Regions from separate parts of the Homo sapiens genome. Here region 2 is linked to region 1. A link means that fine-mapping ties the variant in region 1 to the expression of a gene that starts in the linked region. Tissue or cell type: sun-exposed skin. Region 1 holds a variant in brackets; the other region holds the start of a gene. All regions are shown on one strand. Distances are from middle to middle.

What was found. PIP is the estimated chance that this variant, and not a neighbour inherited with it, causes the effect. A credible set is the group of variants that fine-mapping cannot tell apart.
Region 2: CCDC13-AS1 starts here. The variant in region 1 is the best candidate, but not a certain one, in a credible set for the expression of CCDC13-AS1 in sun-exposed skin (GTEx, PIP 0.81).

What each region holds. Positions count from the first base shown.
Region 1 is chr3:42,704,848-42,720,132 of GRCh38, forward strand. It overlaps CCDC13 (coiled-coil domain containing 13), which reads right to left. Exons shown (of 16, transcript NM_144719.4): 14 at 8,315-8,469; 15 at 4,837-4,951; 16 at 909-4,292. The coding sequence ends at 4,133. HHATL-AS1 (HHATL antisense RNA 1) reads left to right here. Exons shown (of 3, transcript NR_146957.1): 3 at 1,200-1,918. Among named protein-coding and RNA genes, the nearest start is that of HHATL, 9.7 kb to the left of the region's middle. The variant A/AG (reference allele first, on the strand shown) is at 6,613.
Region 2 is chr3:42,723,505-42,738,789 of GRCh38, forward strand. CCDC13-AS1 (CCDC13 antisense RNA 1) reads left to right here and starts at 9,071. Exons shown (of 4, transcript NR_046732.1): 1 at 9,071-9,154. It overlaps CCDC13 (coiled-coil domain containing 13), which reads right to left. Exons shown (of 16, transcript NM_144719.4): 10 at 12,203-12,409; 11 at 9,966-10,105; 12 at 9,383-9,466; 13 at 6,963-7,085. RefSeq lists enhancers at 6,941-7,440, 8,793-9,087, 9,617-10,302, 10,303-10,986, 12,359-13,044 and a silencer at 8,793-9,087.

The DNA.
Region 1 (15,285 bases):
GGAAAGATATGGTGGGGAGTGGGGACAATTCTCTCAAATCTGAGTCCCTTTTCAATTTTCAGACTTTTTTTGTTTGGTTGTTGCTCAAAGTAAAAATGCGAGGAAAGTATCCTGTGTGTTTGCATGTACGTGTGCAACTGTGTTTTGTATCAGTTGTGTGTGGGTCTGTGTGTACGTTTTGTGTTGTAGGTTGTTCATGGCATGTGTTTGCTGTGTATGTGTATCCTGTGTATTGTGTGTGCACATGTATCGTACATACGTGTGTATATGTGTGTTGTGTGTGTGCAAGGCTCACAGATATAGGAGAGTCAGTGTACGTAAAGGCACACCTGTGGGGAGAAGGTGGGCAGGCCGACTTCTTTGTGCTCAGGGCTGGCTGTGGGCTGGCTGGGGGTGGGGAGGAGAAGCTTGTTCTGGCCCCTGGGTGTGGGGGTGCAGAGGAGCACACCCACTGGAGGTCACCCTGCCCTGGGCTCCTGGGAGCAGGGGAGGGGCCCAGTGACAATGTAGTGTGTTTAAGCCTGAGCCAGGCTGCAACCTTGCCCAGCTCAGCTGTGGTGCCCCAGAGGCCCCTGTGGGGACAGTGGCCAAACTACGTCCACAGCTCAGCCAGGTCTCACCTGTCAGTGCTGGAACCTGAGCACCAAGACCTGCAGCACCTGCCTGGGGTGTGGCAGGGAGAGCCCTCACTTGAGGCAACTTCACCACTTAACTCTTTACTTGCCCCTGCCCCTCAACCCGCCAGGGCACCTGCACCCTCCCCTCCAACTACCTCCTCGTGGATCTGGCCAGGGCCCTTGGTGTCTTATCCAGCACACCTGTTGCCCACCTGCCTGAGGGACAGGGAGGTCATCCTCAGGGTGCCCAGGACAGATGGTGCTACCCAGGAGAGGCACTGGTACTAACCTGGACAGACCAGCTGCCTGGCTGTGCACCTGGCCCACCTAAGTTAGGTTTCTCAGGGTCCCTATCTTTGACCCCTTTGATGACCTCCTTCCCTTGAAAATCCTTCTCCCAGGCTCTCCCCACCTTCCCTTTACTCCTCCTTGCTCCTTTGCCTCAGGGAGATGTGAAGCCCCCTCTCTACCCAGATCTGATCAAGGAGGTTGGGAACTTGGGAACTGCCACAGGGATGGGGTGGGGATGGTGGGGGAAGCCCTGTGGTGCTGCAGCCCGGTCCTGCATCCTTCCCCACCCAGCTCCATCATGGCGTTTCCCACACCTCTGATTGGACTGGAAACTCCCTGAAAGGAGGAAGCAAGTCAGATTCACCTCTAGGTCCCTCCCAGGCCTGGAGAGGCTGGCATGCTGTTGGCACTCACTGACTGCCTGGTGGCCGACTGGCTGGATGGAATGGTGACCTGTGACCAGTCTGTCTCTCTCCTCAGCTGATCTGAGAGTTCCTGGAGGCCAGGGACTGTGTTTGCCTCACCTCGGCACCTCTGTGCCTGGGGCAGAGGAACTGCTCAACAAGTTCTGGTTGAACAAATGGAGGGAACACTAAGAGCGAATAATTATTAAGCGCTTACTGTGTGCGAGCAGCTGCTGTAAGCAATGGACACTTTATCTCAGTGAACCCTGCAGAGGGTTCCAATGAGGGAATGGAGCAGACCTGATCTAACCAAGCTAGGGGTGGGGAGGTGCCCGGTGGTAGGTGCCAGCAGACATGACAGGCACTCCCGCACATGGCACCACAGCAATGCTGTCAAGGTTGCCCGTGGAATCTGAAAGCTGAAACACTCATCTTTATATACAGAGTTGGCCAAAGCAAGACACCAGCAAATCAGTTTACCCAAAAATGTGCAAACAAGATTTCCTGTGCCTGCCTGTCTGCAGTTTTTCTTTCCCCTCTCTCTTATATAACTCTTGTTGAAATCAGTCTATAGATACATGTTCCTTGTACAGAAATAAACAGAGAGCTAATAATTAGTGAAACGTCTTTGGGTTATTCTTTGACATACATATTAATAACAGCCCCCTGAGGGAGGATTCTATTATTGTCTGCATTTTATAGATGAGAATGTGGAGGATCAGAGAGGTTAAATAACTTGCCCAAGGCCACACAGCTGGTAAGTGGGGAGAGAAGTATGCCCCAGGCAGCCCCACCTGTCCAGACTCCATGACCTAATGCTCCTTCCTTTCTCAGGCATAGCCCAGGAAGGGCAGCAGAACCACCCTGAAGTGGCTGGAGTGTGGGTCACACCATCTCTGCACTTCCCTGAGGTGATCTTGAGGAAGGATGGCTGATCCTATGCCTGCTTCTCACTCCCTGGGACTGCACTGAGGCCAGAGCCTGTACCCCTCATACTCAGATCACCCTCTGGAGCTCCTCAGGGCCTGCAGGAGAAGGTGCTGACTCCTCTGTGTTCAGACTCTACATCCAGCCCACCCCTCGCTGTCACACACTGTCCCCTCCAAGCACAGACCCTCTCTCTCCTGGCTCTCTGCCTGGCCGTTTTCCTTCACAAGGAACCAGAGAAAAACTCTTCCTTCCCAGAGACCCTTAGGACCCCACCAGAATCATCAGTTCATCCCGGTGGCCTTTGCTCTAACTTGCTGTGGGATCTCTAGATCCGTGTGACCCCATGCAGGGTCAGGGGCTCCCTGAGGAGTGGGGGCCAGCTAGGGTCCCTCCATAGCCCCATCCCCAAGGAAGGGGCTGAGAAGACAGGGTCCCAGGAGCCGCAGTGGCTTTTCCAAGGAAGGAGCTGACAAGATGCTCGCAGGAGCCCCAGTGGCTTTTCCTGGGGAAGGGGGTGTTTTCACAGTATGTGCACCTGCATTTGTGCATCACTGCACAAGCAACACACAAGTGGCTATGTCTTCACGTGTGGGAATGTGTGTCCACATCCACATGTGTGTGCTCATCTGCACCTGTGTGTCCATGAGTGTGCACACATGGAGGTGCCTGTGTGCACGTACAGTTGCATGCTCCTGAATTGAGGTATGTGTGTGCATCTGCATCTTTGTGTGGGGCTGTGGGTGCACCTGTGTGGCCAGGGTGTCGGAGTTGGGGTGTGTGGCTATGAGTGACCCTCCTTGGGGCCACTCCTTCCTGTAGCTATAAGTGCATAGTTACAGCTGAGAAAGGGCAACACTGACAGTCATAGAGGCCTGCGGATCTTAGGGTGCCCCTGCAGCATCCCTCCAAGTTCACCATGGCGAGGGAGGTGCACTGTACCTTTGACTGGAGCCACTACCTCAAAACCCTTCTGCCTGAAGCTCCAGCTGAGCCCCACCTCGGCCCTCTGCCACCAGCATCCATCAGCAGTCTTGGTGAGCAAACAAAGATGCCTCTTGGAGCTGCTGCCTAGGGGTGGGGTTGTTCAGTGGTGGGTGGGTGCGCCTACCCTGGGTAATCTCTGAACGGCAAGACCCTGGTTTTGGGGTCAGGCAGACTGCAGTTAAATATTAGCTCAGCTTCTTTCTGTGAACCTCAGTTTCTTCATCTGTCAAATAAGACAACAAACCCCTGGGTCATTAGAGGACTGAATGGGGTCAGGTTGCCACAGTAGATGCTCACTCACTGGGAGCTGCAGTGATTATGAAAATACTTATTATTATTACAAGTCCAAGGGTCTGCACCTGAGGAAGTGTCCTGAGGAGTGGGCTGACAAACTGGTTGAGAGCATAGTGCCCCAAGTCTGTGTAGGGTGTGGACGGCTACAGATGGAGCCGGGATGGGGGTGAGGGGATAGGGCAGGGCTGAGTGGCATGGGGGATATGCCCACTTAGGGTAACCAAGGGCTCTTCTGTGTGTGAAGCCATGGGGACATCCAGGGCTAGTACCTAGGATGAGGGCGATGAACACCTGCCCGAGGGACTGCATCTGTCCATTCACAGCCGCCTTGCCATCCCAGAGCTCTCGCCTCTGCCAGTGGGCTGCTGGGCCTCCCTGCTGCTGTAACCCAGCCAGCCCAGGGTCTCCTGCAGTGTCCCACCAGGGCTTCTCTTCTGCCTTCCTGGCCTGAGACATTGGTTTTGGTCATCCTTAAGGAGCCTCTTCTGGTAGAAGTGGTTGAGCTGGCTGCCCTGGGCTGGCTTCCCGGAGCAGATGGAGTCCTCAGACAGAGTCTTATCCTCTCAAGACCTGAGGCTGCCCACCCGGCCAGGCCGACACTGGGCTGTCATCCTATTGCTTGCCTGTCTTCTGCTGCCGCAGGGCCTGCAGGAAGACACTTTTCACCTGGCCCAGGATCTCATGGTACATCCGGAAGTCCTCCTCCTTTCCCCGCAGGGCACTGCCCAGGGCAGCCTTTAGCATTTCATTCTCCTCCACCTGGATGGCCAGCCTGGACCACAGGAGACAGTGCTCAGTGTGGCTGGAGCTGCACACAGGTGTGCGTGGGTGACAGAGGGCCCTGGGAATGTGGTTGCCAGCATGGCTGCTCTTCAGGCTCAGGCTTCCCTCTGACCCATCCCCTCCTCTCACTGACTCTTGTGGGTACCATGGATTCCTCTCTATGGGCCTGGCTCCCTGCAATGTAAGCTACCTCAAGGCCCCTTACAAATTGAGTTCCAATTTGTAGAGGTTCCCGTCTTTCCCTTCCCATGGCTGCGTGGGGTCTTAAAAGGTTTAACGTAGTGAGAAACTGGTTCAGTGATCCATGCTTGATAAAATTTCTCTTGGACTATGGGTCATTGGGGTTTGGGCCGGGCCCTCTGTCCTCTGAAGGCCAGTCCCTGAATTGCAGGCCTAGAACCCAGGACCAAACAGGACAAGCCTTCTGGGCAAATGAGTCAAAAGTGCAAGGGGAGGGACACAGTCCCTCTGCCCATGGAGGCACCTCTGCTCAGACAACCCTACCCTTTCAGGAAGGCGGGGCAGGGGAGCACCTGGTTGTCAGCTCTTCCATTTGGGATTCCACGGGCACATCGGAGAGCTGGGCAAAGGATGGGTCCTTCTTCTCGCTCCCGGTTGGGTTGTGCCTGTTGTTAGAGGTGGGCAGACCTGTGGGGCAGCAGCAACCACTTTCTGTGAGGAGGCCACAGCCCTGTGCTAGCACCCTGCTTCTCCTCCCGCCATTGCCCACTGCCTGCTCTTCCACATGGTGAAACGCTACACCGCCTTCGGGGTGCAGGGCAACTCTGAGCTCTGCCTCCCTCCGAAGCCCTCCCTGATGCCTCCTCTGCATGCCTCTGCCCCTGGCTTTGGCCTCTGCTACAGCCCTGACTCTGCTCGCTTTGTACCAGGGTGGTTCCTCACCACCCTGTCTCCATCTTTATACTTTACAAGTTTCTGGTAATTTGTTTTCTTTTTTTTTTCTTTTTTTTTTTTTTGAGACAGAGTCTTGCTCTGTCACCCAGACTGGAGTGCAGTAGCGTGATCTCAGCTCACAGCAATCTGCGCCTCCAGGGTTCAAGCGATTCTTGTGCCTCCCGAGTAGCTGGGACAACAGGTGCCTGTCACCATGCCCAGCTAATTATTGTATTTTTTGCAGAGACAGGGTTTTATCATGTTGGCTAGGCCTCCCAAAGTGCCAGGATTACAGGCGTAAACCACCATGCCCAGCCTGGTAATTTGTTTTCAAAAAGAGAAACCAGCTGAGCCTGAGGTCTGGCCTGCAGGCTGAGCCCGAGTCTAGACTGTCACTGTACCTGATGCCCTCATACCAGTGGTCCCCATCCAGGCCATCAGCTTCATACTAGGAAGCAGGGGATCCAGGGTCCTGGAGTTGAAGGGTACAGAATGTTCACAAAAAGGAGACAAAGTGGCCCACGGTGGGGTGGTCCCAGAACTTTGGGAGGCCAAGTGGGGGCAGATTGCTTGAGGTCAGGAGTTCAAGACCAGTCTGGCCAACACGGTGAAACCCTGTCTCTACTAAAAATACATAAAAATTAGCCAGGCATGGAGGCATGCACCTCAAGACTAGTCTTGTGTAAACCTGTCTCATTGCTGGGGAGGCAGCAGAGTGGCTCTGCCCTCTACAGGGGCTGGACTGAGTGTTCTTCAGGGCCTTTCCTGGCTCCAGGGGACACTGCTAAGCTGCCCTTGGCTTATTCCACGCATTGAGCACCTCCACATCCCCAACTAGAGCTGCCCTGGATGGGAAACTGCTTGTTCAGCCTGATGGAATTTTCTAAGCCCTGTGACACAGGGAATCAAAAAGAGCCTCAGCCGGGTGCGGTGGCTCATGCCTATAATCCCAGCACTTTGGGAGGTCTAGGGGGGTGGATAATTTGAGGTCAGGAGTTCAAGACCAGCCCGGCCAACATGGTAAAACACCATCATTACTAAAAATACATAAATTAGCAGGGTGTGGTGGCGAACCCCTGTAATCCTAGCTACTTGGGAGGCTGAGGCAGGGGAATTGCTTGAACCAGGGAGGTGGAGGTTGCAGTGAGCTGAGATCGCACCGCTGCATTCCAGCCTGAGGGACAGAGTGAGACTCTGTCTCCAAAAAAAAAAAAAAAAAAAAGACAAAGCTCAACTGGTGGTGGCGAACTTGGGCAAAATCACAGCATCAGAAAACCTCGGGACTGAAAAGGCCCTCAGAGGTGGTGTGACCCACAGTAAATTACTTGGTATCAGAAGACCTGGCTTTCGCCCTCTGCTGAGAGGCCTCAGGCAAACTATCAGCCTCTCTGAGCTGGTTTCCTTAGCTGAAAAAA[A/AG]GGATAATAGTTTATGCCTCTAGAGCTTTGGCAGCCTCAGTGAATTCTATTTGGCTCTCAAGGCCCTGTGTGATTGGACCACTCCAGCCTCCCTGCCTCCTCCCTGTTCCTCCAAGCATCCAGCTAAGCTTCCAAGCACCGACACTTGTCTTTCCCTCAGGGATCGGCAGGCCACATCCCCTCCCAGTTCCTCCATCTCTGCTCAGATGTCTAGCTCCCCTACTGGAGTGAGACTGCCATGGGGGACTGAATTATAAATCTAGCCTCCTCATTTTACGGATGGGCCAGGGGGAGGCGGGTAAGTGGTGCTCTGCTCACCAGAGGGGCAGGATTTTGCCCATGTTAAAAGCCAGTAGGCAGCAGAGGCCACCTGGACACTTTCCCTCAGGCAGCTGCCCTCACTGTCCAGCAGGGAACAAAGTGACTTGCCTGCTGTGGCTTAGCTCTCCCTGGTTGGAAGTCCTGCTGCCCTACAGGAGGTAAGCCCCAGCCTGGAGAAGCCACACTCCTAGGGAACATATTCCTGAGAGTCCAAGAGGGTCAGCAAGGCTAAGCCCCAGAGACCCTTCCTTCCCGGCCTGGATTCTCAGAAGCTCCTGGCCCTGCTGGTGGGAGAAGAGAAAGCAAGTGGCCCCAACACCCTCTTTATGCCCTACTTCTGGCACACCCTTCTGAAACGTTCTGACCTCATCTGGGCTGAGGACTGAGACCAAGGGTCTGACCATCCTTGGCTGGGGAGGGGTTGGGGGGCTACTGGGGTGTTGAAAGAGGGTGCAGTGGGGGCAGCAGCACCTCCAGCATTCCAGCCTGGAGGGGGCTGGGATGGGTGGGATGGGAGGTCAGACAGAGGCAGGCCCAGCCCCTCCACATTGGAGACCCTTCCTCCCTGGGAGTCAGCCATCCCAGAAATGGCTTCTGGCTCTGGCATCCTCCAGCTCGCCCCAGCCCCACAGGATGCTGATGCTGCTCATCTGAATACTGCACCTTGAGAACCACTGTGTTCGAGCGATAGACTTTTCAGTTAAGGATAGCATTTCCCAGCTTCCCTCTGCACCTGGCTATGCCCAACTGTCTGGCTGATGGGATGAGAGCAGAAGTGACATATGCAACCGTAAAAGGTAAGGAGAAGTTTGTCTCCTTCCCTTCTCCCCTTCCTGCTGCTGATGGGAAAGCTCAGGCAGTCATTGTAGACCAGAAGATGGAAGCTGCATGTTGAGAACAGTGGAGCCACAAAACAGAGGGAGCTTGGGTCCCCAAACCTCTGGTGAGGCTACTTCCTGCTTATATCAACTTGACCATTGCAGGAGGCACAAAGGGACTCCTCCCCTGCTTCAGCCACTGTTGCTTGGGCTTCCCCAGCAGACCAGCTGTGCCCCATGACCACTTTGAATGAAGTCAGCTTAGGATAGAGGGTTGAGGGCTAGGGTGGCTGGGGGCATTCAGCACTGCCACCTCATGCTGAGGGCTTACAGGTGGCCAGGCCAGGGCCACACGAGGCAATGGAGCTCTGGGGCTCCTGCTTCTGACTGAGAGGCCTGGGGAAAAGAACACCCCACAGTGGAGGCAGGCAGAGCTCCACCCTGATGGAAGCTCTGCTTCCCACATGCTCACTGATGGGCTGAACAGTGCAGCTGCCTGGCTCCTCTGTTAGCAGCAACACTGCCTCCACCCCCTGCACTGAGACTACTGCCCTGGCCCCTACCTGTTTTGGTCCTGGGAGCTGCTCTCTGGGAGGCTGATGCCTTCCCTGGCTCCAGGCGTATCTTCTCCAGATGTTGCTCCAGCACCACGGTGCGGTGTCGCTCCTCCTGCAGCTTCCTCTCTGACTCCAGGAGCTTGCTGTTGCTCTCCTCCACCCTGGTGATTAGAGAGGAGGGGATGCTACATGCCCTGGCAGGCAGGGGCAGGCCCTACCCCACTTGCTCAGGCCCTTAGAGAGATGGGCACATCTTACATTGGTAGTGATGGGACCTCTTCATTTTCATTGCAGTAACACAGGAACATGCATTTAAACACCATATGGTTCTCTCCAAGGTTAAAATTTAAAAATTATCAGCCCACTCCCAGCCCCATCATTCCCAATTCCTGCTCTCTAAAAGCAATCACTTATAACACTTCTAGCTGTTTCTTTTAATATTTACTGCCATATTTCTACAGATGCTTATGTTGCTATTTTTAGGTTTATATAAGGTTTAAATATAATCTTTTGACTTCCTGTCATGCAAAATAAGAATTTAGTTTTATTTTAGTACTCTCCTCCTACGAAACAGAATCACCTGTATACGTTTTTGGATGAATTGATATTAGGTATCAGTTTTCTATCACAGCTATAACAAATTACCATAAATTTAGCAGCTTAAAACAACACAAATCTATTATCTCACAGTTCTGTAAGTCAGAGGCCTGGCAAGCTCAGTGGGTTTCTCTGCTTCTGGTTTCACAAGCCGAAATCAAGGGGTTGGCTGACCTGGGCTCTTATCTGGAGGTTCCGGGGGAAAATCCACTTTCAGGCCCATTCAGAGTGTTGACAGAATCCAGTTCCAGGTAGTTGAAGGACTGAGGTCCCTGTTCCCTGCAGGCTGCTGGTCAATTTCACCTTCTAGGAGCCACCTTGCCCCCTCCATCTTTAAAGCCAGCTAGATACCCTTAACACACTTTGAATCTCACTACCCTCTCTGACTTCCTCCACAGCAACTCTCTGAATAATCCCAGACGGAGATATTTCTCTGCTTTTAAGGGCTCAAAAGATTACATTGAGCCCACCAGATAATCCAGGATAATCTTTCCATTTTAGGGTCCATAACAATAATCATATCTGCAAAATCTCTTTTTCATGTAACATAAAGCACTCACAGGCATAACAGCAGGGAGCAAAGGGCATAGACACCAAAAGCCTGTCTACGTTAGGACAATTAGTTAGAGCCATGACGCACAGTGTCATATGTCCTTTCTCATTTAATTGTTCGCTTTTCTTGGAGTTAGTGATTATCTTAAGCTTATTGTTTTGTTTTCTACATGCCTGTCATAAATGTTATTTCACATGAAGCACTTGTTTAATCCCACTGGAGCTTGAGCTTAGGTCCTTCCTGTGGCTAGGTGTGCCATTTCAGACTTCTATGATACTAAAGGTTCATTTAGTGAGAAAGCCAGAACTCCCTGAGATCTAACCCAAGCCAAGAGTTACATGCACACCTGAAAATTAGAGGGGCAGCCTTGAAACTGACAGTGTTGGAGGAAGTGATCTTTCCACCTTGGTGAAGGGTCAAAAGGAACAGAATGACAACAATTTTGAACAGTATACAACTACTAATAAAAAGCTGTATAGTAACACAGTAAACAGCTACTAACACATATTTAAGCATATTCCTTGAGATTTTATTTGCAAAAGCAAAAACCCAAAACAACCTAAAGGCCCATCATCAGGGGACAAACAAGTAAGTGGTAACATATTCATACTATAGAACGTGATAGAATATGATAGAGCTGTGCTGCCCAACACAGTGACTGCGAGGTTCATGTCCACATGTAGCCATTAAAATTAAAGTTCAGGGGCTGGGCCCGGGGTCCCACACCTGTAATCCCAGCACTTTGGGTGGCCGAGGTGGGTGGATCACCTGAGGTCAGAAGTCTGAGACCAGACCAGCCTGGCCAACATGGTGAAACCTCGTCTCTACTAAAAATACAAAAAAAAAAAAAAAAATTAGCTAGGTGTGGTGGCATGCTCCTGTAATCCCGGCTATTTGGGAGGCTGAGGCAGGAGAATCACTTGAACCAGGGAGGTGGAGGTTACAGTGAGCTGAGATTGTGCCATTGTACTCCAGCCTGGGCAACAGGAGCGAAACTCTGTCTCAAAAAAAAAAAAAAAATTAAATTTCAGGCCACGCACGATGGCTCACGCCTGTGCTTTGGGAGGCATAGGTGGGTGGATCACTTGAGTCCAGGAGTTCAAGACCAGTCTAGACAACATGGTAAAACCCCATATCTACAACAAAAAATACAAAAATAAGCCTGGCACGGTGGCGTGTGCTTGTAGTCCCAGTTACTTGGAAGGCTGAGGTAGGAGGACCACTTGAGCCTGGGAGGCAGAGGTTGCAGTGAGCCGAGATCGCACCACTGCACTCTGGCCTGGGCAACAGAGCGAGGCTCTGTTGTAACAAAAAGAAAAAAAAATAAAGTTTATGAAAATTAAATTAAAAATTCATTTCCTCAGTCACACTAGTGACATTTCAAGTTCTTAAACTGTATTGGTCAGTGCAGATACTGAACAACTCCATCATCACAGAAAGTTCCACTGGTCAGTAGTGGAGTGTGTTAGTTATCATGAGAGTGGGTTTCTGATAAAGGATAACTTTGTCCCCACTTCAACTTTCCCCATGCCATTTCCCTTCTGCCTTCCACCACGGGATGCGGCAAGAAGGCCCTTGTCAGACGCTGGCACCTTGATATTGGACTTCCCAGCCACCAGAGCTGTGAGAAATAAATTTCTTTTCTTTATAAATTACTCAGTCTGTGGTATTCTGTTATAGCAACACAAAATGGACTAAGACACATCCTTGGACCCAGCTGGGTAACATACCTGAACTCCAGGACAAGGAGAAAAATCTTATAACAACAGCACAGCTAATACTTTTTTTGAGTGCTTTCCACATACCAACTACTGTGTTAAGGCACTGCATAAGCATTATTATGTTTAATTCTGTAAGTAAACAAGATGTACTAATATTACTTCAAGAAGACACAGAAAATCTAAATTTGAAAAAAGGTTGTCAAAGATCTACCTCCAAAAAAAAAAAAATCAGGTCAAGCCAGGTTCTCAAGAAAGTTCTATCTAACCTCCAAGGAACCAATGATTTTTGCTATTCTGACAATTCCACAATATAGAAGAAATAGATGGCTTCCTATAAGTTTACAAAAAACTTGATTTCCCAGTTAATAATAGGGTAAATGTATTAGTACTGCTGCATAACAAGTTACCACAAATAGTGGCTTGAAACAATAAAAAATTTCCAAAAAACATAAAGAGCTACTACAACTCAACAACAGGACAAACAACCCAATTAAAAAGTAGGCAAAAGACTTGTGTTTCTCCAAAGAAAATATACAAATGTCCAATAAGCACATAAATAGATGCTCAACATCATTAGCCATTAGGGAAATGCAAATCCAAACCACAAAGAGATATCACTTCAAACCTACTAGGATGGCTATTATTGAAAAAAAGGAAAATAAGTGTTGGTGAGGATATAGAAAAATTAGAACCCTTGTACACTGCTGGTGGGACTATAAAGTGGTGCAGCCATTGTGGAAAAGTTTGGTGGCTCCTTAAAAAGCTAACCATAAAATTACCCTATGATCAAACAATTCCACTTCTCAAATTGAAAACGGGGACTCAAACAGGTACTTGTACAGCAATGTTCTTGTAGCATTATTCACAATAGCCAAAAAGGTGGAAACAATCCAAGTGTCCATCAACAGATGAATAGATTGACAAAATGTGGTACATGCACACAATAAAATATTATTCAGTCATAAAAAGGAATGAAGTTCTGACATATGCTACCATACGGATGAACCTTGGAAACACTGTGCCAAGTAAAATAAGCCAGACACGAAAGGGTAAATATTGCATGACTCCACTTATACAAAATATCTAGAATAGGCAAATTCATAGAAAAGAGGTTACTGGCTGGGCATGGTGGCTCATGCATGTAATCCCGACACTTTGGGAGGCTGAAGCGGGTGGATCACCAGAGGTCAGGAGTTCAAGACCAGCCTGGCCAACATGGCGAAACCCCATCTCTACTAAAAATACAAAAATTAGCTGGGCATGGTGGTGGGTGCTTGTAGTCCCAACTATTTGGGAGGCTGAGACAGAAGAATTGCTTGAATCCGGGAGGCAGAGGTTGCAGTGAGCCGAGATCATGCCATTGCACTCAAGACTCGGCAACAAGCGAGAATCCATCTCAAAAAAAAAAAAAATAAGTAAAGAGGTTACTAGATGCTGGGCTTAGTGGGTGGCGTATGAGGAGCTATTGCTTAATAGTAATAGAGTTTCTGTTTGTGGTTATGAAAAAGTTTGGAAATAGAGATAACGGTTGCACAGTATTGTTAATGTAATCAGTGCCACTGAATTGTATACTTTTAATGGTTAAAATGACAAATGTTTGGTGTATATAGCTTACCACAATTAAAACATACATATACCACACAAATTTATTATTTCACAGTTTCTGTAGGTTAGAAGTCCAAGGTTGGCCTAGCTAATTTGTCAGTGTCTTACATGGCTGAAGTCAAGGTGTCAGAAGGAGTTGCTATCTCATCTGATGCATGGGATCCTTTTCCAAGCTCACTCAGGTTGTTAGCAGAAGTTAGTCCCCTGTAGTTCTAGGACTGTGGTCTCCATTTTCTTGCTGGCTAATGACTTGGTTGGTTGTCAGCTCCTAGATTTTTCTCCCTATTCTGGAGTTCAGGTATGTTACCCAGCTGGGTCTAACGATGTGTCTTCGTCCATTTTGTGTTGTTATTGCATAATACCACAACCATCCACCGCCATGTTGTTCTCTCCAAAGCACAGTGGTTTTGTCAGAGGCGTTTGAACAAGAGCAACTCCATCTTAAATAGGAGCTGGGTGAAATAAGGCTGAAACCAACTGCTGCATTCCCAGATGGTTAAGGCATTCTAAGTCACAGGATGAGATAGGAGGTCAGCACAAGATACAGGGTCATAAAGACCCTGCTGATAGAACAGGTTACAGTAAAAAAGGTGGTCCAAACCCACCAAAACCAAGATGATGATGAAAGTGACCTCTGGATGTCCTCACTGCTACACTCCCACCAGCGCCATGACAGTTTACAGATGCCACGGCAATGCCAGGAAGTTACCCTATATGGCCTAGAAAGGGGAGGCATAAATAACCCACCCCTTGTTTAGCACATCATCAAGAAATAACCATAAAAACGGGCAACCAGCAGCCCTGGGGACTGCTGTGTCTGTGGAGTAGCCATTCTTTTATTCCTTTACTTTCTTAATAAACTTGCTTTTGCTTTGTGCTGTGGACTCGCCCTGAATTCTTTCTTGCATGAGATCCAAGAACCCTCTCTTGGGGTCTGGATCGGGACCCTTTCCTGTAACATCTTTCTGGTGGCCACTGAAGGGACTAAAGTGAGGAAACCCCCAACTCAAAGGTTAACTTTGCATAAGTGTTGGGGTCCTGTAACATCTTTCTGGTGACCACGGAAGCGACTATAGTGAGGAAACCCCTGACCCAAAGGCTAACTTTGGGTAAGTGGTGGGATCCAGTAACATCTTTCTGGTGAACCACAGAAGGGATGATACTGAGGAGAACCCCCCAACCCAAAGGAAATAGACTTCAGCACTGATTGGATGACTTTGGGTAAGTGGGGTACATAAACCCAGGTAAAGGATGGGATTGGGTTAGAGGCCCAACTTAGGGGAGTTAGCATCTCTCCTAAGACAAAGTGGGTCAGAGGCCCCTCTTAATAAAAAACAAAGATGCTTGACTGACCTTGGGTTAGAGGCCCAACTTAGGAGGGTTAGAGTCCCTTCTAAGATGTAGGGAGTTAGTGGTCCTCTCAGTAAAGTTCCTCTCGGTAAAGTCCCTTTCAGCTAAAAATGGGTTTGGCACTCCGGGATGTTAACTGCTATTCTCTTTGGATTAATCTGTCTTGCACTCTTCGCTGATGGCTGTGGGTGACAAGATTAGGCACGTACAGGACTGTGGGACATGGGGAGCTTTTTCTTCCCTAAAAGGGAAAGCTGAGAGCAGATGGGACTGCTGGAAAAGATCCCTTCACTTACTGACAAGCAGCCGCCTGAACTTTTCAGTGTCGCTGCAATGGGTGGGTCTTTCTCTGGCCTCTCTGAGCACCTCACCTTCCCCACTCTGCCTCAGGCAGTGCTTTCCTCTCTCTCTCTCTCTCTCTCTCTCTCTCTCTCTCTCTCTCTCTGTGCAGACTGGTAAAAATCATTGTTTATCTCCTGTAAAGTTTTAATTAATTAGAAAAAGGATTTGTGAGGCTAGTCTTAAGCTGCAGCGAATCTGGTGTGCTTTACGTGTTTTTCTGTATTGTTCCATCATAAAGAGGGGTACCTTATGATGGAACACAGGCTTAGGACACCCATAAGCCTGCTTTTCAAGACGGCCCAGCAAACTGGTCAGTTACAAACTTTGCTGCAGATCCCTGAAAAACCTGGATGAGGTTTCCTTCTTGTCTTGTAAATCCTTGGGAGCTTGACCTTGTAACCATGTGGCCATGCTTTCTCTTTTCACAATGGCAGCCTGGGTTCAGGGTTCCATTCCCAGCTTAGGGGATGACTCCTTTATCTTCTGTCTATATGTATATGTATTATGTGTGTGATGTTTATACATGAAAGAACTTTAATTGGTTTGAAAATAATAAGAGCTTAAATATTTTATCAGAAAAATAAAAAGCATAATGTCTTTTAGTTCCTGTGACTTAAGTAATTTTTGGGAAATAGAGTTTTAAAGATTATTGGTAAAATAAAAATATCTTCAAAAATGTAAACATTTAGTCTAAATTATGCAGGTCAGATATTACATTTACTAAATTCTTTAAGATCATAAACTGCTTCTTTGACTTTTGAAAATTGTTCAATTTACCTACTTTGGAGCATTAGATTCTACATAAGGCC
Region 2 (15,285 bases), 19 kb after region 1:
TATCGGGGGTGGGAATGTTAGAATTCTGCCTACCACAGTAAAAATAGAGGAAAAAAGAAAGAACATTAAATTCAATGGCATTGTAAGAGAGTAACACAACATAGTTCCAAGAACACTAGAGCTGTAAGATTCAACATCGGAATTAGGTTAAAGGAAAAAATCAGGTAATCCTTCCAATAGATACTGAAGAAGCACTGGTAAAATCAGTAGCTATTCCTGACTTTAAAAACTCAAAGTAAAATGAGAATAGAAGGAAACAACACAATAAAGTATTTTAAAATCAGAAACTAATAACCCATCAATAGAAGAATGGTAAATAAATAACAGTGGATTTATACAATAAAATATTCTGTAACCATAAAAGGAAAACGTACTGACATGAAAATGCAATATACTAAGTAAAATAAGTAGCAGAAGATTATGCATACTATATGATCTAATTAAAAAATTTACAACAAATTAAAAATTTAAAAACAAATAAATATAAGGTTAATATAATTCAGCCACTTGACTGAAAACAAAAAGGAATATGTGGCAGCTATTGACTCAACTGTGGGGGAGGGGCTTTCACTTTTCTGTTATGAATTTCAATAATGTATGCATTTTGTTTAACTCCATTTATAATAGGGGAAATAATAAACCAACAGCAAAACATCATATAAAATAGCAAACCACATTGTGAATTCCCACAAAATTTTAGGAATAAGCAAACTCTTGATTTCTCTCCTTCTCCCCTATAACGTGCCTTCCACATCTCAATAAATATTATCCTCACTCATGCAGTTGCTCAGCCCAGATACCCGGGGGTCACCCTTGCCTTCTCTTTCTTCCTCATCTTCAGCTTCCAATCTATCAGCAGGCTCTACAACTTTTCCTGCAAATATGCACCAAAACCAGCTCTTTCTCTGTCCTCGCCCCCTCTCCAGACCTGAGGCTGCTCCTCCTGCCTGGGATCTACAGATGTCCGTAAGCTTCAAGACCTCTTGCACACTTTGGTATTCTGATTATTCTCTTTTGACCAATCTCTGGTCTCACTGATTTTCTTCAGTTGTTAACAGGCCTAACTCAGCTAGATCCTAATTTGTCAATGTATTTGATTGCGATTCTAATAGTTCTCCAAACTCATGTTCATCAATCTCATGAAATTCCAAATATTTTGAAAGATTTACCTTTTTGCTTCATAATTGATTTTCATTGTATTTCAAGAGTCTGACCAAAGTGACCCAATGCCAATGTGAAGTGAAGAATATTAAATAGTCAAATGATGACTGTTTTAATATTAAAAATTTTGCTTTCATGGGGACTGTAACTGTGGGGGTGCTGGTAAAAAATACTCAGATAAGGAGGTTTCCCCCTACCTAAGAATGCTAAGAATGAATTTAGCATAATGACACAAAATCTTCATGAAGACAAACATACATAATATTACACATTATATACATAATACCATATATATGATACATAAAGTGTTCTTTTATAAGTCAAATAAAAATATAAACAACTCTAAAACATGTGCAATGGCATGAATAGGTAGTTAAAAGAAAAAAACATAAAAGTTATGTGGAAAATATACTTATCCTCACTTTTGGTCATAGCAAAGCAGATAAAAACAAGGAGATATTAGCATTTCCTTGTTAGTTTGGCAAAAATGTTAAAGATTAATAAAACATAGTAACTGTGAGGGTATGGGGAAAACAGTTCACATTATTGGTAAGAATGTAAATTGATTCATTTTAAAAGGCAATTTGTCATGATTTGTGAACATTTTAAATGTGCATATTCTTTGATTCAGCCATTTCTTTTTTAGGAATTTGTGATACAGATATACTCCCATAAAAATGTAAAGATGCATTTAATGTAAGTCTATAAAAATATAAAAATTAGCCAGGCATGTTGGCATGTGCCTGTGGTCCCAGCTACTCCAGAGGCTGAGGTGGGAGGATCACTGGAGCCCGGGAAGTTGAGGCTGCAGTGAGCTGTGATCACACCACTGCACTCCAGCCTGGGTGACAGAGTGAGACCCTGTCTCAAAAAAAAAAAAAAAGAGGACTAAGATAATATCCATCTACAAGTTCAGGAAAGTAGTAAGGAAGCCTGCAGTCTATCAGGGCCTTGGGAAATGGGGAGGAGGGGAGGAAGCACCAATCATGTGAAACTGAAACACAAGGGCAGCATTCATGTGTTCAGGGAATCTAAGCCAATAAATTCACATAAAGTACCAATCAGAGACCACTGAAACCCTAAAAGCTTCACAGAGACAAATGCAGAACACCTCCACAGAAACACGGTCATCACCTAAGAACTCCTACAAGGAAAAAAGCCCCACTGAAGATAAGCTCATAAAATCACAAAAATTGAAACCACACAAGGAAATAATTTACTACAAGGGGAGAGCCGACAGACATTACTTAGGATCCTAATTAATGAAGATGGTAGAAAACTCTAAAGGGAATAAGTTCAAAATTATTTAAAGGAGAAAGGCAAAAATTGTAATGAAAGAACAAATGCTATAAGAAAGAGAACAAGAGGGTTTTGTTGTTGTTGTTTTGTTTTTGAGACGGGGGTGTTTTGCTCTTTTTGCCCAGGCTGGAGTGGAGTGGCGTGATCTTGGCTCACTGCAACCTCCGCCTCCCAGGTTCAAGCAATTCTGCTTCAGCCTCCCAAGTTGCTGGGATTACAGGTGCCTGCCACCACACCTGGCTAATTTTTGGATTCTTAGTAGAGATGGGGTTTCACCACGTTGGCCAGGGTGGTCTTGAATTCCTGACCTCAGGTGATTCACCCACCTCGGCCTCCCAAAGTGCTGGGATTACAGGCATGAGCCACTGTGCCTGGCTGAGAACAGGAGCTTTTACCGAAAAATACAGTTATCAAAATAGGTTTCATGGTAGATGAAGCACAACTGAAGATATTTAGTGATCTAGAAAGCTGATTTGAAGAAATCACCCAGAATTCAGCCCAAAATAGTAAGGGTAAAGAGATGTGGAGGAAAGAATAAGTCTAACATATATGGACTAGGAATTTTAGATTAAAAGAATAGGGAGAGTGAGGAAGAGGCAATATATGGACAGCAGTCCTTGGGAATATATAAAGTCCTTGGATTGAAAAAGAACACTAACTTCTGAGTAGATAAAATTACGTATAACATATTTACATATATTTACATATGTATACTTTACATATACATACATACAAATATACACACATATTTACATGTATATATAAAATATATATTTACATATATGTAAAGTCACACATATATACATATATACATATATGGGCATATTACATATATACATATGTGTGTGTGTATACGTATATGTATATACGTATCACAGTGAAATTTCAAAGCTTCAAAGACAAAGAGAATAATCTGAAGAAGCATCGGAGAGAAAGGACAAATCTATTAAGGAATGACAATAAAACTGATAGCAGATTTCTTTTTAGCAATAGTAGATGATAAAAAACAATAGGATAGCCTGAAAGTGCTGAGAAAAAAATACCCATCTATTTAGAATTCTATGCCCAAATTTCTCTTAAATTCTCATTCAAGACAGGCAAAATAAAGACATTTAAAAATAAACAGGCCAGGCGTGGTGGCTCATGCCCTTACTCCCAGCACTTTGGGAGGCTGAGGCAGGCAGATCACCTGAGGTCAGGAGTTCGAAATCAGCCTGGCCAACATGGTGAAACCCCATCTCTACTAAAAATACAAAAATTAGCTGGGCGTAGTGGCTCACACCTGTAGTCCCAGCTACTCGGGAGGCTGAGGCACTAGAACCACTTGAACCTGGGAGGCGGAGGTTGCAGTAAGCTGAGATCATGCCACTGCACGCCAGCCTGGGTGACAGAGAGAGACTCGGTCTCAAAAAAAGAAAAGAAAAATAAATAAATAAATAAATAAAATAAAAATAAACAAATACTCAGAGAGTTTACTATTTACATGGCCTCACTGAACTAAAGGGCATCTCAGTAAGAAGGAAAGTGAACCTAGAAGGAAGATTGAGATACAAGAAGTAACAGTGAGTGAAGACATTTTCAAACATGTTGGCAAAAGGAAACGAATATTCACTATTCAGTATTCAAGACTTACTTTGGAGGGTTTAATTTCAGGGTTTAAAAAAAGAATGTGGAAGAGAAATATTAGGAAACAGTAACATGAAAGGCACAAACGGAGAAATCAAAGTTAAAACATTCTAAATGTATTCTTTTGCTTAAAGTGATAGTAGCAAAACCAACTAACTTTAGATTGCTGAGTTTGATGTTAAAAGTTAAGGGTGACCACTAAAAGAACAGAGATAGAATATCTAACTTCCAAACTTGCAAAGAAGTAAGAGAAATAAAACTTGATCAGTCCAATATAAGGGAAGAAAGGAGAAAAAAAGGAACAAAGAAAAATCATGGCAAATAGAAAATATTAATTAAAGTGATTAAATATTACCAAAATCAAAGTGGATTAAACGATACTGTTCAAACACAGAAATTCCCAGATTAAATTTAAGAACAAAGCCGACTACGTGCTTTTTAAAAAAGAGACATATTTAGTGACTTTTGTCATGGTGGACTAACCAACTCCTATTGTAAGTAACTAGAAAAATTGATAAAATGTAAGAAAGAACTTGTTTTCAGACAATGGACAACAGGACGACACACACTGGATACAAGACTTGAGGAAAGGAAGGACTTGAGCTTGGCTCGCCCTTGGCCTTGGCTTTCTGCCTGAGGCACTTTCCACTGCAGGGTGGGGTGGGGGCAGCCACGCAGAGCACCCTGGGATGCTGGGATGAGCACACAGGATTAGGGAACTGGGTGGGGGAGGGCAACTGAGGCAGCTGGAAATTGTAGGGCAGAGTAGAGGAGAAGGGAAGCTAGGCAGAGAAAGACTCCCCCCCACCCTCCCCTGTGCAAGGCTGGGACAGACTCTGCAGATAAAGAAAGGAGTAGATATTGAGGATCTCTGAGAAACGAAGGTCCTGTACTTTGGGATAGTTAAAACATTAGTTAAAACGTTTAGTTTTACTTTAAAATAGTTCCTTTGGTTTAATTGGCCAATCATCAGTTTTGAAAGGAATCATCATTTTTGATGATTGGCCAATTTAGTTATAACAAAATGGTTTTAGTTTAAAACATTTAGTTTTAAACCAAATAGATTTGAGGGAATTTGAGTGCAGAAGGTACCTGGGTTCCCTTTTCTTGTTACAGCCCAGGGACTTAGCAATAACCTCAAGGAAAAAAGGCAACAGGTGTTGGTTGATGGGCCTGGCACAGCCTCACAGAGCCCCAACACCCCAGGATGACACAGAGTAGCAGGAGGAACCCAAGGACCCAAAAAGGGCCAGCATATTCGCAGACAGAGAGTTGCATGTATGTGACTGGGTGTGAGCACCTCTTTACATTTCATACCCCAGGTGCCCTGCTTGCCTCACCCAATCCTAGCCCTGTGTGGAGAGGCCCTGAAAATGAGATCTCACATGGAGACAGAAGCCACATGAAGGAGAACTGAGGCATCCCTGCTGAAGTGCCAGCTGCATGAGACCAGTGAGTGACCCCAGCTGACATTATGTGGGGTAGAATTACCCAGCCAAGCCACAGAATCGTGAGAAAGCACAAACCATTGTGTTTGAAGCCACTAGGTTTGGGATGGTTTGTTATGCAGCAATAGCTAACTGAGTCACCTTTTTCACACACCCCCAAACTCGGATGTAACTCAAGAGAAATGAGAGAGAAAGCCTGCATTGAGTATGTTTCTACTACTTGATAGACTAAAGACTTGTACTATCCATTACATTCCAATTATAGAAAAAGAATCAATGTTGCTTTTCTCATATACTTGAGTATGTCTGAAATTCACATCATCTCTATGTACTATGTGAAAGCAAAGCTGACCACTCACTATTTAGGTAGCAGGCATCCTTTGTTTTGTCCTTCCCTGCACCCCTAGCTCCTTCTTTTGCTATCAGTACCCCCATTTTCCCTTTGGCAAACTACCTTTCCTGCATTCTGTGAGCACCCGGAGGAACTTCAGTCAGAGTGCCCTCACATGTGGGGTGGATACGGGCGCAGCACTGGCCAGTTCAACCTTCTCTCCCAGAACCCATGGGCACAAGAGCTAAAAGCCATTTGGCCATGCCATTTCAGTGGCCCAGGGAACTGCCTAGGGTTTCCTGCTACCAAAGATGCCTGCACCTTCTCAGGCTCCTCTCCTGCTCTCTGCATTGGAGTCTGCCAGTACCTTCCAAAAATCTGCCTTTCACTGAATTCAGCCAGAATTGCTTTCTATTGTCTGTCATCAAAGAGCCTTGACTGATACATGATATAGCCTGTTAGGGCAGAAACTCAGTGGTGTGCTTAATATTTTTCAGTGTGGAGGTCACATGGTTGAGCCATGTGTTGGCCTGGACACCTGCAATTCTTGCCAAAAGGATCATTTGAGCGAGGAGCACTGATTTATCTGAACGGAAGTCTGTCAACAACCCTTTAGAGAAAACCATACCTCCTGGTCCAGTGCCTCAGGCCTCGTGCTTCCCTCCCTGCCTCCCCAGCTATCAGCACCTCTCTTGTTCTTTCCAATTCCAGATGTCAGTCTAGCTTGTGTTTTCTTCCCACCAAACCCTCCAGCAGCACCAAGCACAGTGCCAGGCTCATCACAGATTTTAATTATTGATGGATTGATTTGACTGATTTACTTCTGGGTGTCTCTCCCCCGAGACTCCCAGCAATGTCCACATGCCATACAACAGTCCCATTGGGTGCATGTAGAATGGGGCTGTTCCTAAGGGCAAAACACAGTGTGACGACAAGGCCCCAAGGTTGTGGGGCGCATGAGTTGTGGCTAGGAATGCCCTGGACCAACACTGGGAGCCGAGCTCTCAGGTGAGGAGGACCCAGTCATAAATGAGGCCTGGCCCCAGTCCCCACCACATGCAGGCCTATGGGAGAGATCCCTGGGTGCCATGTGTTACCGTTTCTGCAGGACAGTGACAAACTCGGTGAGCCGGTCACGCTCCACCTCGGCAGCCTGCCAGAGGGCCTTGATCTCTGACACTTGTGCCTGCCAGCCTTTTTGTTCTGGGGAGTCCGAGAACCTGGGACCAGGGTGGAGGGCAGAGGGCAGAGGTCATCCGAGGCCTAGAAATAACACTTACCCCTGTGATGGTTGGAGGGACTAGAAGGACATTCAGGGCGAATGTCAGCCAGAGCAAAGGAAGCAAACCCAGTCCCTCTAGGTCCTCCCCTGCTGGCTTCTTTGCCCACCATTCCTGGTCCTGCTGAAGTCCCTAGGCTCCAAAGCTGAACCTACCAGAACTAGAGTTACACTGGTACCTCTGTCCATCCAAGCCCTGTGGGGGCCTGGAATTAGTCTGGTGCTGTGGCAGGTGGCTCTTGGGGACCTGGGGTGCCCTGGGTATCTGTGTGGCCTTTGGGGCCTGGCTGCCCTACCCAGTGTCAGGTGTGCCCAGTCTCTGTGTCCCTGCCAGTCTCTCCCAGCCCTCCTGCATCTTCTGGCTTGGTCCCCAAGCCCAGCCCACTTTCCTGGAGCCTGTGCATTTGGCTTTGTGACTTGTTCAATTTTCTCCAGCCCTAAGCCAACCCATCACTGCTTCCCTCTTACCTGCTGGCTGGAGCCAGGACAGAAGGTAAACTCTGCCCCCCAACTTCAACCCCCCAGAGCCCACATGTGAGTTCCAAGCTGCTCTCCGCTGTGCCCCCACTTTTCCCAGTGAGACCCTGAGCTTACTTTTCTAGCAGTACAGGGCATAGGGAAGGCTGCAGAGCTGGGCAGTGTACTGAAAACTGGGCTGGGGCATGTGATCCTGAGGGCTGACTTCTCGGTGGTCTTGGGCAGGTCTCTTCCTCTCTCTTGGCCCCAGTTCCCCCACTAAACATTGAGAGGGGTGGTTTAGATGGGCTCCGAGAACTGCAGACCCCTCTGTGACTCCTAAATATGCTCTAAGGCCTTGCTACTACAAGTGGTCTCTGAATCGGTGGCTCTGGCATCTCCTAGCAGCTTGTTAGAAATGCAGAATCCCAGGCTTTACCCCAGACCTGCTGAATCAGAACCCACACTTGACCTGGCTGATCAGCAGGGGCTCTGTGTGTGCACTGCAGTTTGGAAAGCCCCATTCATTTCCCCAGTTCTAGAATGTGGGAAGAGGAGGAGCAGGAGCAAAGGGCCGATTCTTCACTCTGCCCTCCTCCCAGGCACCCCACCAGAGTCACCTGAAGGGAATGGGTTCAAACCATGCCAGCCCGAATAGACATACTCTCTGGGATCACTCTGCCCTGTGAATTCCTGTCCTGTCACCTGTGGGAGGGGACTGTAAGCTCCATGAGGGTAGGGCCCACACATGGTCGAGTTTAGTAAGTATTTGTGTGTTGTGGAAGAAACAAGCCTGACAACCAGCAGTCTGGGCAGCCAAGGCACAGAGCAGCTCCTGTATTTCTGTGTGGCACAGAGGTCACAGCCACACAGGCCTGGAAGGGGCTCGAAGGGGTCATCTTGTCCATCTTCCTGCTCTCTTTACTGTGACTAAAACCTCAGAGAGGCAGAGCCTCCCCAATCTCCCTGTGCTGTGACAAGACCTCCCACCCTAAGGAGCGTGGCACATGCCTTGTGGCTCAGTGTCAGCCCACTCTCCCCAAGTGCCTTTATGACCCCAGCCTGATGGGTGGGGCAGCTTTGGCCCACAGACCCTATGCTGCCAAGTGTCAGCAGCATGCTGTCCCCCACTTTTCGGGGATAGCAGCCCAGAGAAGGACCAGTTTGCCTGGAGCCACAGAGATGAGGGACTGGGGCCACTTGGAGGCTTTGCCTGGAACCTGAGCTGACCTGCCTGAGGGGTCAGGGTGGGGAGTGTTGACAGCAGGAGCATGGCTCCAGTGGACAGTGGGCAGGGCTCGGGACAGGGCTTAGAGGCAGGACAACGCTGTCCTTTGTCTATGGGCTGGCAGTAGGAACAAAGGGCCCATTTACACCCTCTGGCTTGATTCTGTCAACAAAGAGGGGGCCCAAGGTCTGAGGGGATATCAGTGGGAACCCATATCATGTGAAATTCTCCCCTTAGAGGCTGATTCTCAATGAGCAAGAGAAGATGAGGGAAGGTGCTAGAAGCCAGGCCCAGGAAGGTTCCTCAGGTTAATTCTCACGTAGCAGGTAGGAACCCTAGCCTGGGAGTCAGAGGCCAAGATTCTAGTTCTGAAGCTGCTTACTCTATCATCTTGGACAGGACTTCCCTGATCCTCCCTGTCTTTATGTAACCTTGGAAGAGTCCCTGGACTTTGCCTGGCCTCAGTTTCCCCTCCTTTTAATGGGATGGCAATACTGGTTGAGCAATCAAGAATGGGAAAAAACTGTGAGAGTCCGGGGGTCGGGGGTCCATACCTAGGTGAGGTCCTGTGGGGACTGGGCAGGGAAGGCCTCGTGAGAGCAGATTCCACCAGTGTGTGGCCCAGGCTGGTCACAGAGCTGTGTAAAGGCGGAAGGGGCCCATCAGCCTGGGAAGGCAGACCAGGCCCTACTGGGCCTCACCTCTGCATGTGAGGTGGAGCAGTGGCCAGCAGGGGTCCAGGAAACCCTTGCAGCAGTCCTGTGGATTTGCTGCCCTTCTTTCCAGAACTCTTGTTTGCTCAAAATGAGACAGAACAGGAGACACCAGAGCCTTGAACAACCCAACACGGGTCTGTTTGAAGGCCCCAGGGGCAGAAAACTTTTGAGGCCAGCTCAGAAAGGCTCTTACAGAGAGCTGCAACCAGCATGCTCTTGAAGTGATAAAATCTGGGCCTAACCGGCTCATTTCTGCAGACGCAGAGCTAATGTCATAGGAGAGGCCCACGTATTGGAAGAACAACAGCATAGTCATCTTAAAATTGCACCTGTGGCTTCCCATCAGAGGTAGCAAGAAACAACCTTTCTTCCGAATAATTAATGTTCACTTTCCAACCCCTCCCTCCCATTGTTTTCTTACCGAGAAGATCCAAGCCTGCCAACATGATCGCCTGCTGAGGCCGGGGACTTGGTCAGGCCTGGGTCCTCCAGGAACTGGGTATAGGCAGGGCTGACCTCGCGGCCACTGGACCCCTCACCCACTCCTTTATTCCGAAGATACTGTAGGAACAGATGTGGGTTCCATCCTCAGGGCTTTGGCTCAGAGGCCTAGAGAAGGCAGGAGGGGATCTTGGCTTGATTTCGGGGCTTTCAGAGGATATGAAAGAGGCTTCTTTTCAGGAGTGAAAAGCGAGGCCTGTTTGGTGAAGGCACTACTTGCATGATAATGACATCTAATAATGCCTCTCTTCAGAAAGAAAGCTACATGGTGTGAGGACGGTGACTGGGCCAGGAAGCTGTTCTACATTCAGGTTCCAGAGGGAGGTGCACGGCCCTGCATGCGGGGCAGGTCAGAGACTGACGTCTCTGAGTGGGTCCGCTTCTCCAGGCGGCCCCACCCACATGTGGTTGAACACCAGGTGTGACTTGAGGCCAGCTGCCTTCCTCAGCTGGAACACCTGGACCTTCCAGACACCTGCAGCCAGAGAGGCTGGCAGGGACTCAGTGAGGGCAGGCAGCCTTGGGTGGAGGCTAAGCCTGCCAGGCCCCCACCCCTCCCTCAACCCCTTCCTCTTCTGGATACCTGCTGGGGCTGGACTGGACAGGAACATTAGAGGACCCCCAGCAGGAGGTCAGGCCACCAGAGTGGACAACCGGTGTAAGCCCCTAACAACCTGGCTTGTCCCCCAGCCCCACCCATTTTGAGAAAACTCGAAACGTGTGCCGACTTAAGTCTGGTGGGTAATGCTTGGCCCCCATTCAGCTGGTGACCTCGGAGGTAGGAACAGTCTTCTCCTGTGTGCCTGGAGAAAGGACAGTGGTGAGGTGAAGATGCTGGAATCTTCCCCTTCAGACTTCCCTCCCCAGTGAGCCAGGATGGGGAGCAGGGTGAGTCCCCATTCACTGCCGTATGTGCTCTGTTCCCAGACTTCCTTGTGCCCCCAGGCTCCCCTTCAGCCTCACAGCACTATGTCACAGCCAGTCCTGGGGCCCCAGGCTACCCTGGCCTGTGGGAATAGAGGCTACAGGACAAACCAGGCTGGTCAGCCAATGCCAGACTGAGGCAGGGCCGAGGGGCTCTTGGGCTCTCACCTCTGAACAAACCACGGATCCCCAGAAACAAAGAGCAGGGCTGCTTTGCAACATGCCTTTGGCTGAGCCAGTCAATTTCCCAGTGGGCCAGAGGCTGCAAGGCTCCTTTGTCACTGGGAGACCTGCATGCCTGTCAAGAAATTCTCCCCAAGGACACCACCCAGCCCCACCACCACCCCAGGGAGGTGAAGGTGCCTGACTCCTAGCAGCCCCAAGCTGTGCCCTCAAGGCACCTGCCAAGACAAAATATCTTTACAAGCTCATGCCTTAGACAAGCATTTATTGAGCATCTACTGTGTGCTTGCTCCAGTGCCAGGCACTGAGGCACCACGGTCTGTGCTCCCTTACAGAGAGTGCAGGGGAGAAAACAGGAAAATGACTACACAGCGTGAGAGAAGTTTGGTTTGGGGATGCATAGGGAGTTAGGAGAGTGCCTAGGAGGGGAACACAACACAGAACAGGGGTCCTGGGGCTTCCTGGAGGAGCTCCTGACTAGGTAAGACCTAAAGGCTGAGGGGCAGCCGGCCAGACCGAGGCCGTGGGGGAGGAGGGGAGGGAGTGTGCTTCACGCTGCGCGTAGCCCTGGAGTGCGGAGCAAGCAGGAGCTGAATGGTGCCTGGGTAGCAGAGTGTAGGGAAAGGGGAGGGGTGAAGAGAAGATGCAGGAGGGGTGGCAGCAAGAGTTAGTCACATGGTGCCTAGAAGCTGAATGAAGTGTGGCTTTCCTTCTCTCATCCTGCTGCTGGAGCTACTGCCACCATCTTGAATCCTGAGGATAAGGCCACAGCTGGGGATGGGAGAGGGTAAACTGGAAGGTGCCTGGGTCCTTGAGAACCAGGTGAGGTCGAGGGTGACAGTAAGCCATGAACAGATTTTAAGTAGAGCAAGGACACAATCAGGTTTGTGTGCAGAATGGGTTGGGGAGCCAGATAGAAGCAGGTGGCCAAAGTGGAGCCAGGAAGGATGAAGTCTGGCCTGAGCTAAGGCAAGTGGAAAGAAGTGGAAGGAGCTGGATGGACTTGCCCGGCTTGAAAATGGGTTTGGGCGCTGCCAGTGCCCTACTCACGTGCACATTGAGTTGTCCGATCTCCATCTCCAGCTGTCGCACTTTGGCCTCCCGCTCAGCTACCATGGCCTGCAGCTGGGCGACTAGGCTGTTGCTCCGCTGAGCCTCGCTGTTCAGTTGCTGGTCCAGGTGGTGCTGGGACACTCGCGTTTTCTCCTCCTGCAGACTCAGGCTGCCTAGGATCTCCTGTAGCTGCTTCAGCTGGTCCTGGGGGGCCAGGCAGGAGGGCAGGTGGAGTCAGTCATGGCCCTTTGGGCCGGGGAGGACAAGAACAGACTGCCTCCCTCACCCCAAAGCAGGCTGCAGGAACCTAACAGTGGGATCCTGTTCCCTCGAGAGGCAGGAACACCTTCCTTGCCTGCCATCAGGGGATGTTGAATCAGGCAGGTGGGGACCATGTTCTTTTCCTGTCCTCAACTTCCTTCTCTGAGTTTGGGGCCAAGAAGATCCAAGGGGCTCTCAGACAACAGAAAGTAGATCAGATGGTGACTCCTCACCCGGTGGGGGAGATATTTAGCTAAAAGAAAAGCCTGATCCTGCTTGGCTGGGAGACTGCCCTTGGAGGCAGTACCTGGACCCCTGCCAGGGATCCATTAGCACCTGACTGAAGCCTCATCCCAAGGAAAAGCCCTCAAGGAGACTCCTGGGCAAAGGCTTCCTGCCTAGGGCCAACAGAAAGGACAATGTCAGTGATTTGGAACAGGTGGGGGCTGTTGTCTTCACCTCAGAGTGGAGGAAACTGAGGCCCAGAGAGTCCAAGGGCATATTGCTGGTGAATAGCATGACTGGGACTAGTTTGCAGCTCTCATCATGCCACTTTCAATGACAAAGAATGGTGACATGCAGGGACCTCAGAGGACATCCAGCCCTGCGACTTATTTTTAAAACTGGCTGCTGAGCCTCAGAGGGGATGCGACTGGCCTATGGTCACACAGTGAGATACTGACAGAGGCAGGCCTAGATTTCTGGTCTTCTGTGCCCCGCTCACCACCCTATCATGTAAAGTGATCATGAACTAAGGTAGGTGCCTGAGCCAGCACCCCCCAAACACCCCAGCCAAGCCAGACATGATCACCCGCCCCGGGCCTGCAGGCACAACTTGGAATCTGACACCAAACTTTGGTGCCTCGGGTCCCACAGAGAAAAGTCCAAGCTGTAGGGTTAGGAAAGCAGTATGGCCTTACTAATCAAGGAAGTTTTTGTTTTTGTTGTTGTTGTTGTTTTATACATAAGTTGTAGGGTACATGTGCACAACGTGCAGGTTTGATACATAGGTATACATATGCCATGTTGGTTTGCTGCACCCATCAACTCATCATTTACATTAGGTATTTCTCCTAATGCTATCCCTCCCCCAGCCCCCCACCCACCGACAGGCCCTGGTGTGTGATGTTCCCCGCCCTGTGTCCAAGTGATCTCATTGTTCAATTCCCACCTATGAGTGAGAACATGCGGTGTTTGGTTTTCTGTCCTTGTGATAGTTTGCTGAGAATGATGGTTTCCAGCTTCATCCATATCCCTGCAAAGGACATGAACTCATCCTTTTTTATGGCTGCATATTATTCCATGGTGTACATGTGCCACATTTTCTTAATCCAGTCTATTACTGATGGACATTTGGGTTGGTTCCAAGTCTTTGCTATTGTGGATAGTGCCGCAGTAAACATACGTGTGCATGCGTCTTTATAGTAGCATGATTTATAATCCTTTGGGTATATACCCAGTAATGGGATTGCTGGATCAAATGGTATTTCTAGTTCTAGATCCTTGAGGAATCGCCACACTGTCTTCCACAATGGTTGAACTAATTCACAGTCCCACCAACAGTGTAAAAGCATTCCTATTTCTCCACATCCTCTCCAGCACCTGTTGTTTCCTGACTTTTTAATGATTGCCCTTCTAACTGGTGTGAGATGGTATCTCATTGTGGTTTTGATTTGCATTTCTCTGATGGCCAGTGATGATGAGCATTTTTTCAAGTGTCTGTTGGCTGCACAGATGTCTTCTTTTGAGAAGCGTCTGTTCATATCCTTCGCCCACTTTTTGATGGGGTTGTTTTTTTCTTGTAAATTTGTTTGAGTTCTTTGTAGATTCTGGATATTAGCCCTTTGTCAGATGGGTAGATTGCAAAAATTTTATCCCATTCTTTAGGTTGCCTGTTCACTCTGATGGTAGTTTCTTTTGCCATGCAGAAGCTCTTTAGTTTAATTAGATCCCATTTGTCTATTTTGGCTTTTGCTGCCATTGCTTTTGGTGTTTTAGTCATGAAGTCCTTGCCCATGCCTATGTCCTGAATGGTATTTCCTAGCTTTTCTTCTAGGGTTTTTATGGTCTTAGGTCTAACATTTAAATCTTTAATCCATCTTGAATTAATTTTTGTATAAGGTGTAAGGAAGGGATCCAGTTTCAGCTTTCTACATATGGCTAGCCAGTTTTCCCAGCACCACTTATTAAATAGGGAATCCTTCCCCCATTTCTTGTTTTTGTCAGGTTTGTCAAAGATCAGATGGTTGTAGATGTGTGGTGTTATTTCTGAGGCCTCTGTTCTGTTCCATTGGTCTATATATCTGTTTTGGTACCAGTACCATGCTGTTTTGGTTACTGTAGCCTTGTAGTATAGTTTGAAGTCAGGTACTATGATCCCTCCAGCTTTGTTCTTTTTGCTTAGGATTGTCTTGGCAATGTGGGCTCTTTTTTGATTCCATATGAACTTTAAAGTAGTTTTTTCCAATTCTGTGAAGAAAGTCATTGGTAGCTTGATGGGGATGGCACTGAATCTATAAATTACTTTGGGCAGTATGGCCATTTTCATGATATTGACTCTTCCTACCCATGAGCATGGAATATTCTTCCATTTGTTTGTGTCCTCTTTTATTTCATTGAGCAGTGGTTTGTAGTTCTTCTTGAAGAGGTTCTTCACATCCCTTTTAAGTTGGATTCCTAGGTATTTTATTCTCTTTGAAGCAGTTGTGAATGGGAGTTCACTCATGATTTGACTCTCTGTTTGTCTGTTACTGGTGTATAGGAATGCTTGGGATTTTTGCACATTGATTTTGTATCCTGAGACTCCTGAAGTTGCTTAT